Linked DNA regions of Homo sapiens: region 2 is linked to region 1. Evidence: fine-mapped expression QTL. A gene starts in region 1. The other region holds a variant in brackets. All regions are shown on one strand. Distances are from middle to middle.

Region 1 (2,910 bases):
GTGTGCAACTGTGAAGTGATGTCCCCAAGGTCCCCTGGCCATTTTTCCCAATGTTCAGTCATTTTGCGAGAACCTCCTTAGAGTTTCCTACTCCAGCAGCTTAGACTTAAAAAGAGAAAAAGTGTACTTTATGTTTTCCAACAGGTTAGCTGATCAAATTGGGAAGGGCATTAAGATTCCTTGACACTCAAGCATAATAAAATCATCAGTAGCTTAGAGAAAAAAGTAAAAGCCCTCCTGTCCAGAAAGGAAGGGACAATCTTCAACTACAATGTTGTATCATGTGAAAAATTGATCCCCGACTGATTACGTTTTAGAAGCCTGGATTGGCTAGTTGCCTGCATTTTATTTTACTTGCAGCCAGAAAAGGGTTACATAGTTATCCCAGGAGACTAGCAGCTGCTTTGGTTCAAATGGGACAATTACAGGTGTGAAAACAAACCTGCTGGGTTTTCCCCAACTGCAGTTTGGGAAACTGTGAGCGTGTGAGTAAACCCGAGCTTCCATCAGCCCCAAGTGGCCCCCTAGAAGTGTCCGAAGGAAATGACTTCACTGGCCCTTAACTCTGCGTGGCTCCCCCTTTGCTTAGATTCTTGTCTAGGAAGCCAAGTGAGGAATGCCTTTCACCCCCAGGGCAGGTTTCCTTTCTGGCTCTGGCGCTCCCCAAAGCCCCAAGTGCTCCCCAAACCATGCCTGACACACAGTAAGTGCTCTATACATGTCATTTATTGCATTATTATTATTTGCTTATCGCCCTCTGGGAAGGGGAATACAAAAGAGAAGGGAGGAAGCAGCTTCACTTAGCTGCAGGAGAAGAGGTCAAACAGCAGAGGGAGCAGGATTACCCGTGCAGATGCCAGTCTGGTTGCTGGGGTCCGCGCTGCGATCACAGTAGAGGCCACTGCTCTCGTCGCATGGCTCCAGATCTGAGCAGCTCTCGCCACGCTGGCGGGCACACACCAGACAGCATGAGCAGCCGTCCAGCACCGCGCGCACCCCGGGGGCGCAGGTCGGCGGCGTCGCAGGGCACCGGCCCGGGCACTGGGGAGGGCAGCGCTGAGTCGCAGCGACCTGAAGGCAGGCGAGACAAGGAGAAACCACTCAGCTGGGACAGAAGACGCAGTGAGCCCGGTGACCAAATGGGGGCCACCAAGGCGGGCAAAGTAACTTGGGGGCATCTTAAGGGTGTGCCACTTACCTGTCCCAGGAGATGGAGAAGCAGGAAGGTCAGGCAAAGGCACTGCTTTCGGAGACAAAAGCTCGTGCTCTGCACACTCTGCATGCTCAGGCTTTCCCCTCTCGCTTTTACCAAACGAGACTTTCTTCGCTGTAGATTGGCACTGCTCGCCTTCCCCCTGGTCCGGTGCTTGCCGATCACGCCCAGCACAGGTTTTATAGCGCGCTCCTGGGACGCGCACAAGCCGGTTGGCTGCAGTGCAGGGAGGAGGGGGGAGATCGGCTGGGTGGGGAAGTGGAACGAACCCCGGGGTTGCCATGGCAATTGGCTGTGGGTGCTGCTCTCCTTAGGGCGCGGCGCCGGGGCCTGCGTGTGCCTGTGTGTGGCGACTGGCTTTTCCCAGAGGGTGGGGAGGGGCTGGGTGGAGTTCCGAGGCCAGGACCCAGGGCTCGCTCGAGCGCGTGGGAAGGAAACGCCCGTTTCCTCCTGGAAGTTGCTTCGCCTTCTCCCAGGACGAAGACACCACCACTCCCCACCATCCTCCTCCACCCTGACCGTTCCAACCAGGGCTGCAAGCGTGGGGTCCCCTTACGGGATGCCTGCAGTTTGGGGCCATCTGCAGGGGATTGGCAGAAGGCCCAGGGGTTTAGTCATGAGGGAAGCACATGCAAGTTTGTCACCGTTTAGGGCACTCATTGAATGTGTTGAGAGGGAGGGGAGAGAAGCAAGGGAGGAAAGGAGAGAAAGAGGAGAAAGAGAAAAGTGTGTGTGTGTTGGGGGGAGGGGAGTGGCAGGGGGAAGGGAATCTAGAAAAAAAATCGATATGTCAGGAGGTGGGGAATGCTATTGGCCAAATGGCAAAATTCTTTTGACTCTAATCCTTCTAGCTTCACTCAGTCTTAAACCCCAAGGTCCACAGGTTTGTTAGAAATAAAAGTAAAACACACACACACACACACACACACACACACACACACACACATAAAGAAAACATCATAAAATAAAACAAAGAAATCTTGGCAGAAGAAAGCCTTGAAGCACCTGCTGTAGCAGACCAAATGTGAGACGGCACACCTGAGAGTCCAGAAACCTTTGACAGTTTTCTAAGTGGGTTCAGTTCAACCACCATCACCACCATCAAAACCTCCAGCCAGGGAAGAAATGAGGAAGAAACTGGCTTAACTTGGCTGACCCTTCAGCAAATCAAATCCTTCTCTCACCGGGCATCCGCTTTCAAGAAATGATTGCTGGGGCATGCTTGTCATCTCTCATGGGAAAAAGGGAGCAGTTTTACTGCTCCAAAGGTGACATTGTTTGAAGGATTTAGAACAGTTTCCCCCCACACTTCAACACTGGTGCTGCCCCTAGGAGAACTATGCCCAGCTCTTTTGAGGATAGTTGCTTTGGAAAAAAACAAAAAACACTTTTTAAGGAAAATTATACAGGCCTGTGATGTAATTCTAGAGTTTAAAAAGAAACAAATGGCCTCTACCTCATCTGTCCCCAGCATGAAGGAAATCAAAGGCAGCTTGCGGAAGGGGCCAGGTCTGCCTCTGCAACACCCGCAGATGATGAGGTCACCTCAAGCCCCTTCTAGATAATTCTCTCGGCAGCCTGAAACCACTATGACACACTTCCAAGCCTCTAATAGTTCTGCTTTCTTTGAGGTAAATGAGACTGAGTAGTACTCAAACTTAACTAGAGATGAAACAGTTCATTTGCACTCTTGAGTA
Region 2 (2,910 bases), 32 kb before region 1:
AAGAAAGAAAAAAAGGCTTATTTACATTTAAGACACGATGGAAAAGCAAGACTGAATGGAAAGGGGCACAGAGATACTGGGACATTAGGATAGGGTGATGTGAAATTACTTGTTCCAGTAGAAATTTGTGGGAAGGAGGAAGTAGTCAATATGCTAAAATTCTGTAGGAGGTTCAAACAGAAAAGGGGCTTAAAGTTCGCATGCTCCACCACTGCACTCCCCAGACACTGCTGTCTCTTTAAACTAAAAGGATGATGAGCATAGCCAATTCTCTTGGCCAATTTACCAAGGGCCACTCTCTTCACTTCTTCCCTACAGGCAGAGTCTCCTGCTGGGATAGAGTCTTAAAATGCTTTTGTGGTTTTCCTTGTTAGTAGAGATGGCCATGCGATTTAAATCTGATCAAGGGGAACTACAGAAAGACCGCTAGGGAACTTTTTCTCACAGATGAAAAGGAAGAGGGCCGGGGGCCGGGTGTGGTGGCTCACGCCTGTAATCCCAGCACTTTGGTAGGCCAAGGCAGGCAGATCACAAGGTCAGGAGATGGAGACCATCCTGGCCAACATGGTGAAACCCTGTCTTTACTAAAATACAAAAAAATTAGCCAGGCATGGTGTCGCGTGCCTGTAGTCCCAGCTATTCGGGAGGCTGAGGCAGGGGAATCACTTGAACCCGGGAAGCAGAGGTTGCAGTGAGCTGAGATCATGCCACTGCACTCCCGCCTGGTGGCAGAGCAAGACTCTGTCTGAAAAAAAAAGAGAAAAGAAAAGAAAGAGAACAATGATTAAGAAGAGCCTTCTTCCTTGTCTCCTGTTCCTCCTGTTCCTCCTGTCTAAGTAGTTGTGTGAGGATGTGATCCCTGGAGATGCTCTTAAAGACATGAGGACACCATCTGAGGATGAGGGAATCAAAGAAAGGAATGAACTTACATATCTGAAGATATTATTGTGCATTAAACAAATGCTGGAGGCCACGTATCTCCTAGCTTATTATGCGAGTCAATAGAATCCAATTTGTTTGGGGAAATTTTTAGTTGAGTAGTCTGTTTCTTGCAGCCATAAGTAAGATACAACAACAAAGTAGAGAAGGGAGCATAGACTATTCTTTCAAGAAGACTTAGTGTGACTGGAAAGCAAGAAATGTGATGTAGTTTGGGTATTTGTCCCTGCCCAAATCTCATGTTAAATTGTAATCCCCAGTACTGGAGTTGGGCCCTGGTAGGAGGTGTTTGGGTCATGGGGGTAGATCCCTCA[C/A]AGCTTGGTGCTGTTTTTGTGGTTCTGAGCTAGTTCTTGCAAGATCTGGTCATTTAAAAGTATGTGGCAATTTCCCCCACCCAACCCTACTTGTTCCTCTTTGGCCTCATGACATGCCTGCTTCCTGCTCACCTTCTGCCATTATACTGAAAGTTCCCTGAGGCCTCCTCAGAAGCTGAGTGATGTCAGTGTAGAGTCTGCATAACCATGAGCCAACCAAACCTCTTTTCTTTATGAATTACCCAGTGTCAGGGTTTTCTGTTTTGTTTTGATTTGTTTGTTTGTTTTTGTGACACAGTCCCACTCTATCACCCAGGCTGGAGTGCAGTGGCACCATCTCGGCTCACTGCAACCTCCACCTCCAGGTGCAAGCAATTCTCCTGCCTCAGCTTCCTGAGTAGGTGGGACTACAAGTGTGCATCACCATGTCCGGCTAAATTTTTTTTTTTGTATTTTTAGTAAAGATGGGGCTTTGCCGTGTTGGCCAGGCTGATCTCAAACTGACTTCAAGTGATCCACCCGCCTCAATCTCCCAAAGTGCTGGAATTACAGCTGTGAGCCACTGTGCCTGGCCTCCACTGATTTATTTATAGTGTTTTTTGGTACATATCTTTGTATAATTTTCTTAGTGGTTGCTCTGGATATTATAATATATATATGTGACTTATTGCAGTCAATGTATCAATACTTTATTAATTCAAGTAAAGCATGGAAACCTTACTTCCATTTCGGTTCCTTTTGCCTTTTCCACTTTTAAATATCATTGTCTTGAGTATCAGGAGGTATTATAAGTTTTGTTTCAATGATGAAATATTATTTATAGAACTCGTGAGGAGAGGAATAGATCATTGTATGTATTTATATTTCTGTCCCTCTTCTTCCCCTATTAACTGGCAGAAGTGCTAATTTATATGAATGAATTAGCTTATAGTTATGCTTATGTTAAAAATACACTCATAAAGATTTATTGGAATATGTTCCCAGTAACTCTATCCAGGATCAAAAATATTTCTGTTGAGTGGAGTTGGGGTTTTCAGTGTCCTTACCTATAAAATAAAAAGGGGTGGAACTGATATCCATTCTAACTTCTAATCATGTAGTCATTGGGCATATTTCTTCTGTGAAACAGAAATCATAGCTTTGGGGAGAAATTTATAGTAATCTTATAATACTTCAAGCTGTGAGTTCCTCCAAATTTTGACTAAGGGTTTGCTAGTTTCATTGTTCTTTATTTGGGGTAAAGTTATTCTAATGGGGAAATTTTTCCCAACATCATTATTCTCTAGATGAAAGACAGGATGATTTAAAAGTTAAAATAAAACTGAGAGCCAGTCAGCACCACTAATCCTTACTTCCATACCTCTCTTCTCTTTTCATGGCTATTTTCTCCCTTTTGCTACCTGATAGTGGGAGTGTATGAGAAGAAACTGATCTGTCATTCATTCCAAATCTTTTCAATCCAATGGGAAAATTCTGATAACTAGAGCTTTAATAGTTACTTGGTCATTCTTACCTTCTTTGGGATAACTACAATTTCAAATGAAACCCTAAATTCATACAAAGTGTCTCCTTTCCAGTTTTATTTTATAGTTAATTTTATACCCCAGCCATCTTTAGTAAATTCCAGGATTTCCCTTTCTCTCCTTCTCCCGGGTGA

The links.
Region 2: its variant is fine-mapped to the expression of CCN3 in whole blood (INTERVAL, PIP 0.95).

Annotation. Positions count from the first base shown.
Region 1 is chr8:119,414,905-119,417,814 of GRCh38, reverse strand. CCN3 (cellular communication network factor 3) reads right to left here and starts at 1,369. Exons shown (of 5, transcript NM_002514.4): 1 at 1,199-1,369; 2 at 846-1,071. The coding sequence starts at 1,282. LOC124902009 (a long non-coding RNA gene) reads left to right here and starts at 1,506. Exons shown (of 2, transcript XR_007061077.1): 1 at 1,506-2,844.
Region 2 is chr8:119,447,352-119,450,261 of GRCh38, reverse strand. No RefSeq gene overlaps it. Among named protein-coding and RNA genes, the nearest start is that of CCN3, 32 kb to the right of the region's middle. The variant C/A (reference allele first, on the strand shown) is at 1,254.